2 separate regions of the Homo sapiens genome follow, and region 2 is linked to region 1. Evidence: fine-mapped expression QTL. Tissue or cell type: nasal epithelium. Region 1 holds a variant in brackets; the other region holds the start of a gene. All regions are shown on one strand. Distances are from middle to middle.

What was found. PIP is the estimated chance that this variant, and not a neighbour inherited with it, causes the effect.
Region 2: it holds the start of CATSPERB, and the variant in region 1 is the best candidate, but not a certain one, in a credible set for the expression of CATSPERB in nasal epithelium (TOPMed, PIP 0.52).

Annotation. Positions count from the first base shown.
Region 1 is chr14:91,643,786-91,647,785 of GRCh38, forward strand. The region is part of intron 15 of CATSPERB (catsper channel auxiliary subunit beta); the gene reads right to left. Among named protein-coding and RNA genes, the nearest start is that of CATSPERB, 86 kb to the right of the region's middle. RefSeq lists enhancers at 1,575-2,169, 2,170-2,762. The variant C/T (reference allele first, on the strand shown) is at 2,284.
Region 2 is chr14:91,730,084-91,734,083 of GRCh38, forward strand. It overlaps CATSPERB (catsper channel auxiliary subunit beta), which reads right to left and starts at 2,003. Exons shown (of 27, transcript NM_024764.4): 1 at 1,847-2,003.

The sequences.
Region 1 (4,000 bases):
ATCTGTCTAATGTTGACGGTGGGGTGTTAAAGTCTCCCATTATTAATGTGTGGGAGTCTAAGTCTCTTTGTAGGTCACTCAGGACTTGCTTTATGAATCTGGGTGCTCCTGTATTGGGTGCATATATATTTAGGATAATTAGCTCTTCTTGTTGAATTGATCCCTTTACCATTATGTAATGGCCTTCTTTGTCTCTTTTGATCCTTGTTGGTTTAAAGTCTGTTTTATCAGAGACTAGGATTGCAACCCTTGCCTTTTTTTGTTTTCCATTTGCTTGGTAGATCTTCCTCCATCTTTTTATTTTGAGCCTATGTGTGTCTCTGCACGTGAGATGGGTTTCCTGAATACAGCACACTGATGGGTCTTGACTCTTTATCCAATTTGCCAGTCTGTGTCTTTTAATTGGAGAATTTAGTCCATTTACATTTAAAGTTAATATTGTTATGTGTGAATTTGATCCTGTTATTATGATGTTAGCTGGTGATTTTGCTCATTAGTTGATGCAGTTTCTTCCTAGTCTCGATGGTCTTTACATTTTGGCATGATTTTGCAGCGGCTGGTACCGGTTGTTCCTTTCCATGTTTAGCGCTTCCTTCAGGAGCTCTTGTAGGGCAGGCCTGGTGATGACAAAATCTCTCAGCATTTGCTTGTCTGTAAAGTATTTTATTTCTCCTTCACTTATGAAACTTAGTTTGGCTGGATATGAAATTCTGGGTTGAAAATTCTTTTCTTTAAGAATGTTGAATATTGGCCCCCACTCTCTTCTGGCTTGTAGGGTTTCTGCTGAGAGATCCGCTGTTAGTCTGATGGGCTTCCCTTTGAGGGTAACCCGACCTTTCTCTCTGGCTGCCCTTAACATTTTTTCCTTCATTTCAACTTTGGTGAATCTGACAATTATGTGTCTTAGGGTTGCTCTTCTCGAGGAGTATCTTTGTGGCATTCTCTGTATTTCCTGAATCTGAATGTTGGCCTGCCTTGCTAGATTGGGGAAGTTCTCCTGGATAATATCCTGCAGAGTGTTTTCCAACTTGGTTCCATTCTCCCCATCACTTTCAGGTACACCAATCAGACGTAGATTTGGTCTTTTCACATAGTCCCATATTTCTTGGAGGCTTTGCTCATTTCTTTTTATTCTTTTTTCTCTAAACTTCCCTTCTCGCTTCATTTCATTCATTTCATCTTCCATTGCTGATACCCTTTCTTCCAGTTGATCGCATCAGCTCCTGAGGCTTCTGCATTCTTCACGTAGTTCTCGAGCCTTGGTTTTCAGCTCCATCAGCTCCTTTAAGCACTTCTCTGTATTGGTTATTCTAGTTATACATTCTTCTAAATTTTTTTCAAAGTTGTCAACTTCTTTGCCTTTGGTTTGAATGTCCTCCCGTAGCTCAGAGTAATTTGATCGTCTGAAGCCTTCTCTCAGCTCGTCAAAGTCATTCTCCATCCAGCTTTGTTCCGTTGCTGGTGAGGAACTGCGTTCCTTTGGAGGAGGAGAGATGCTCTGCGTTTTAGAGTTTCCAGTTTTTCTGTTCTGTTTTTTCCCCATCTTTGTGGTTTTATCTACTTTTGGTCTTTGATGATGGTGATGTACAGATGGGTTTTTGGTGTGGATGTCCTTTCTGTTTGTTAGTTTTCCTTCTAACAGACAGGACCCTCAGCTGCAGGTCTGTTGGAATACCCTGCCGTGTGAGGTGTCAGTGTGCCCCTGCTGGGGGGTGCCTCCCAGTTAGGCTGCTCGGGGGTCAGGGGTCAGGGACCCACTTGAGGAGGCAGTCTGCCGGTTCTCAGATCTCCAGCTGCGTGCTGGGAGAACCACTGCTCTCTTCAAAGCTGTCAGACAGGGACATTTAAGTCTGCAGAGGTTACTGCTGTCTTTTTGTTTGTCTGTGCCCTGCCCCCAGAGGTGGAGCCTACAGAGGCAGGCAGACCTCCTTGAGCTGTGGTGGGCTCCACCCAGTTCGAGCTTCCCGGCTGCTTTGTTTACCTAAGCAAGCCTGGGCAATGGTGGGCGCCCCTCCCCCAGCCTCGCTGCTGCCTTGCAGTTTGATCTCAGACTGCTGTGCTAGCCATCAGCGAGATTCCGTGGGCGTAGGACCCTCCGAGCCAGGTGTGGGATATAGTCTCGTGGTGCGCCATTTTTTAAGCCGGTCTGAAAAGCGCAATATTCGGGTGGGAGTGACCCGATTTTCCAGGTGCGTCCGTCACCCCTTTCTTTGACTCGGAAAGGGAACTCCCTGACCCCTTGCGCTTCCCAGGTGAGGCAATGCCTCGCCCTACTTCGGCTCG[C/T]GCACGGTGCGCGCACCAACTGGCCTGCGCCCACTGTCTGGCACTCCCTAGTGAGATGAACCCGGTACCTCAGATGGAAATGCAGAAATCACCCGTCTTCTGTGTCGCTCACGCTGGGAGCTGTAGACCGGAGCTGTTCCTATTCGGCCATCTTGGCTCCTCCCCTCAATGTCATTCTTAATTCCTCTCTCTCATACCCTGCATCGAATCCATCAGAAATCCTATTGACTCTAGCCTCATGATATATGTAGACTCCATCCACTTCTCACCTCTGTCACCACTATCACCCTGTACAAGCCACTGTCATCTCTCTTGTGCCTCCGAATTGGTCTCTGTGATTCTGCCCATAGCTCCCTTCAGTCTGTTCTCAAAAAAGCATCCAAAGTAACACTTTCAAAATGTTAAGTCACTTCATCCACTCTCCTCATCAAAACTCTCCATGGCTTCAACCTCTCTCTCAGTAAGAGTCAAAATCCTTGCAATGCCCTCCAAGGGCCACCGTGGTATGAATTCCAGTCCCTCTCTGACCTTATCTCCTATGACTTTCTGCAATGCTTACTCTGCTTCAGCTACACGAGCCTGAGGTTGTCTATCTCCACAATTAGATAATCTGTTACAGGAATAGCTGGGCTCCTTCCTCTCCAATCTCACACTTTTAATATATTGTTCTTGCCTGTCTAGACTAATTCAGCCCTCCAATACAATGATGAATAGAGGCAGTGGTAGATGACATAGCAAAAGCTTTTGGTGTGTTATTAGAAAATATGATTGGATATTTGCTATAGCTTCTTTCCCCCCTAGATACTCTTAATCAAGAAGTTACATTCTATTCATGCTTTAATAAATGTTTGTTTAAAAAATCATGAATGGCTGGGAGCAGTGGCTCATGCCTGCAATCCCAACACTTTGGGAGGCTGAGGCGGGCAGATCACCTAAGGTCAGGAGGTGGACACCAGCCTGGCCAACATGGTGAAACCTCATCTCTACTAAAAATACAAAAATTAGCTGGGTGTGGTGGTGGGCACCTGTAATCCCAGACAATGCAAATCAGGGCTGCAAATCTCACAGGGGCCTTCCAATGGCCATAACCTCTCAGACAGGTTTTTTTCTCTCTTTTTCTTTTCCTACTCACTTAACAAGACGACTTTGTTGTATTCCTTGGGGATATGTGTGAGTGTGTATGGATTTACCTCTGATTAATCTTTATCGTAAGGGTAGAGCCCTCAGGGGTTCTGGTGTATGGTGGGGCACACCATCTATATTCTCACTACCTGGGTAGACTCAGGGCCATAACTCTTCATTAGTCCACCAAATTCAAAGTCTAAGTTTGCAGGAATTTGTAAATCTCTTCAGGTCAAAAGGACTTTGGTACTGTGTGCCCTCTTTACCTCTCCAAGTATATTAGCCTGTTTGCATGCTGCTAATAAAGACATACCTGAGACTGGGTAATTTATAAAGGAAAGAGATTTAATTGACTCACAGTTCCACATGGCTGGGGGAGGCCTTACAATCATGGCTGAAAGCAAATGAGGAGCAAAGTCACATCTTACATGGTAGCAGGCAAGAGAGCTTATGCAGGGGAACTCCTTTTATAAAACCATCAGATCTTGTGAGACTTATTCACTATCACCAGAACAGCACGGGAAAGGCCTGCCCCCATGATTAAATTACCTCCTACCAGGTACCTCCCACAACACATGGGGATTATGGGAGCTAC
Region 2 (4,000 bases), 86 kb after region 1:
CTCAATTTTCTACCCTCAAAATTCTGAAGTTGAAATCCTAACCACCCTTACCTCAGAAGGCAATCATGTTTGGAGATAGGATTTTTAAACAGGTGATGAAGTGAAAATGAAGTCATTAGGGTGGGCCCTCATCCAATAGGACTGGTGTCCTCAGAGAAGAGGAAATTTGGACATAGGCAGGGTGAAGTGAAGACACAGAGGGAAGACATTCAGAGGGAAGATGAAGGGAAGACACAGGAAGAAGACAGCCAGCCACCTATAAACTCAGGAGAGACGCATGAACAGTTCCTTCCTCATGGCCCTCAGAAGGAATTAACCCTACAGACACCTTGATCTCAGATTTCTAGCCTCCAGAACTGTGAGAAAATAAATTTCTGTTGTTTAAGCCACCCAGTGTATGGGCCTTTGTTATGGCAGCCCTAGAAAACTAACACAGCATCCATGATGAATTTCACCTCTAAGGAACTTGGGGGACAGGAGGTACTGGAGTGAGCAACCTGTGGACACTCTGGCTACTGCTTTTGCTATTAGTAATAAAGTCCTTCGTCTCTGACCTAGGAGTCTTGTGTCTTTTGCCAGCATCCAAGAAAACAGAAACATACTAATTTGCCAACTCTAAGTGGAATAAAATCTCAGAACTTTGTGCAGTTCCTGACAACTGCTGAGTAAATTAAATGTAACTGGTGTTTTTCCTTCATCAAAACTGACTTGCTTATTAAATACATTTAATTGACAATAGAAAGCTCAAACAGTTTGATTTTTTTGAATTCATTCTTATCACATTAACAGGGGAGAACTGAAGGTTTTTAGTGCATTTTTAAAAATCATCTGAGAAAACAACTTGTTTTCACAAGGTAAGAGGAAACAAATGGTAGATTAAAATTCTGTCGGCATGGTGCAATGCTCAAGTATATTTTTGGTGTAAGAACGAATTTAACATTAAGTGGAGACATTATCACAGTTAAACTCTGAAAATAGTCCCTTTACCAGAAAAATCTTATATCACTTTGCTAAACATTCAAATTAAATGATACAACACCATTATTAGAATCTTTATGCCTCTTCATGGGTCACCTGTGCAAACTCGAGAGAGTTAGTATGAAGCACGTGGTGGAAATTCTGGTTTTAATGTCAGCAAGCTTGTTCTGCAAGCTTTCTTATCTGCCATCCTGCAAGCTCAAGAATTTCTGCTACCTACTGGTTTCTTTAATTCTTTGGGGCATAGTTCCAGTCTCATTCTTCTTATTTTCCCTTCAATATTACAACTTTTCCTTATTTGATACTATCTTCTTTCAACTTTCAGCTCATAGTTAGAGTAAAAACATAGACTTTAGCCTAAGACGAAGTCTGTCCATCGAAATATTTGATTTTTAGCAAGCTATTTAACTTCTTGGAGTTCATATTCTATTCAGTAAAATGGGGATAACAGGCACTTCACAGTGTTGTTGTGAGAATTAAATGAAAAATACCTTAAAACATCTAACATATTCTATACAGAATAAGCACTTGACAAGTATTACTTCTGAATTCCATATCTCCATACACTGCAGCAACTTCTTTTTCCTCATCACACTCCCCTACTGACCTACTTAGCAGTTAAATTACCCCCAGTTATCATTCCTTTGTAATTATTATAAGTTTTACATAATTACTGGATACAAGTCATGTATCTGGGCATTTTCTCTTCTCTGGCACTAAATAAACATTGGGAATTGCCCCATTGAAGGAAGCTATTTCCTCCCCCAGTTGGTTCATTTATAGTTACTCCATTATTATGGAATAGTGATCACATTATAAATTCATACTCCAGCAGGGTCCTTATTTTAATATTTTTTACTGTAATTACCTCTTTAGGAGATGCGCAACTAGTTGTGTTCTTCTTTTTTATATTTTTTCTCAGTTTTCTTCCATATAGACTGAGAAGAAAGACCCAAAGTCAGGAGCCAAGTTTTCCCTGTTGACTGGCTTAGCACTCTAGTCACCTTTGGTAACAGCCAATCAGCAGCTACCAAGTACAGAAGCATGCTTAGAAAATCTAAAGGACAGGCAGTTGGAATTTCCAACTAACTGCCTCTTTCAGAGCACCACAGGCCATTTTCTTTAAAAACCGATGAGAGGTGGAGGTTCTCCAAACCTTCCATCTTTAATATAGCATTTATCTAGGAAGGATCAGAAACCTACATATGATTATCTATAAAACACTTCAATGATCATACGATCATTGAATGCCTGGGGAAAAACATAAATGCTAAAAGCTCATGCTAACTGCATATAATAAGGTTTAAAAGGAGGCAATCTCTCAAAGGGGAGGAGCTTCATAACTGGGTCTTTAAGGAAGACTGGGACTTAAAAAAAATAGAGAAGGCCTTATTGACAGGTAAACAAGACAAGCAAATACACAAAGCACAAAGTTAGAAATGAGCTGTGGACGCATGGAAACAGTGAGACCAAATGGCATGCCAGTTTGTCCTCCGTATTCATGTTGTGTGACTGTCCTTGATGTGGTTGTATGTGCTCACTAAGGCTGCCTTTGACTGAGTACCGAGTGAGCTGAGCTTGAACCTTTCTGTCTTACCCAGCGCCCTGACTAGTCATGAATGGTCACAGAGGCTGACACATACTTTTTGATAATCATGATAATAAAACGTGTTTTATACTCAGGTTGTCCTTCAGAAGTCCCTTCACATGGCCATGTAAAACCTGCTTTACCCTCATATCCTGAAATATGTCTGGTATCTGGGTTTAATCTATTCCTGGAAGAGCCCGCATCAGAAATATATTTCTCTCACCCTTTCTGGTGACCTTGACCTAAAGAAGAACCTGAAACAGTGTGCAAAACACAACAAAATATATTTCCTTATAAAGACTCAGTTCCCAGAAACTTGGAGCTCTCTTTTTTTGTTGCCTGTTTCCCACTAGGGAAGGCAATAAAGCTTTTATGGAAGAAGATGTAGCTTTCAGTTACCATAGCAACACTGCTACACATTAAAAAAAAGTCTGAGCAATACTGAAGGTACACATTGAGAGCTCTAAAAAGAATGATGAAGCAGGTGACATTTGCCTTCTTTCTCCCCAGCAACCTCTTAGTTTTCTTTTCCTCATTTGCCCCCACATTTTGTTTCCTAACTTACGAAAGAGTAAAGGATCTGTTTTCAATCACAGTCACTGATGAATTACACTTTGATGTGAGTACCAAGACTACTCCCACAGTAGGTGATTCATCTGTAACAGTGGAATGAAAGGGGTTCTTCTGCCTGAAAAACAAATTATGCACTGGGCTTCCGTCTAGTCAGGAGGATAGGGGGCAAGGCAATGGGCTGATTGAAAGAAGGATGACTTTGACTTTTTTTGTAATTTTTTGCTGGCTATAACAGGGCTTATTATGTGTGAAAAATGAAAACAAGTATAGAGAAATCAATTACGCATAAATCAACAACCAGATATAACCACTGTGGACATTTTGACATTTCTCGAGTCTGTTTCTTCTGCATTTATATGTCCTTCTTTCAGTCATTGTTAGTCTGACCATTTTCTCGTGTAACTCAAGTGTTTTATTTAAGTCTTCGCAGTTGTAGATCTAAAAATAACGGTACCTAATTTACTTAAACATAAAATATTTTTCTATTTCCAGTGTTTTCCTTTTTGAGAAATGTGGTAATGAATAATCCTGAACAAAATTATTTTCCTACATTTAAAAATATTTCCTTAGGATATGAACATGTTTAAGACTCTTGAATGTATGTTGACAAATTGCTTTCCAGAAACCCAGCAGTGAAAATTAGATATAATCTGAAATAATTTGATACATTAAAAAATCTTGTTTTACTTTTTTCAATATTGGTTCAACTGAACACTTATAAATATGCTTGTTTGACATTTTTTTCTTCTATAAATTATCTGGGCATGTTGTTAAACATTTTCTACGGGAAATTTAGTGTTTTGCTTGTGAAATGGTAAAATAACCCCTTGCAATATTTAATGTAAATATTTAACTCAATTT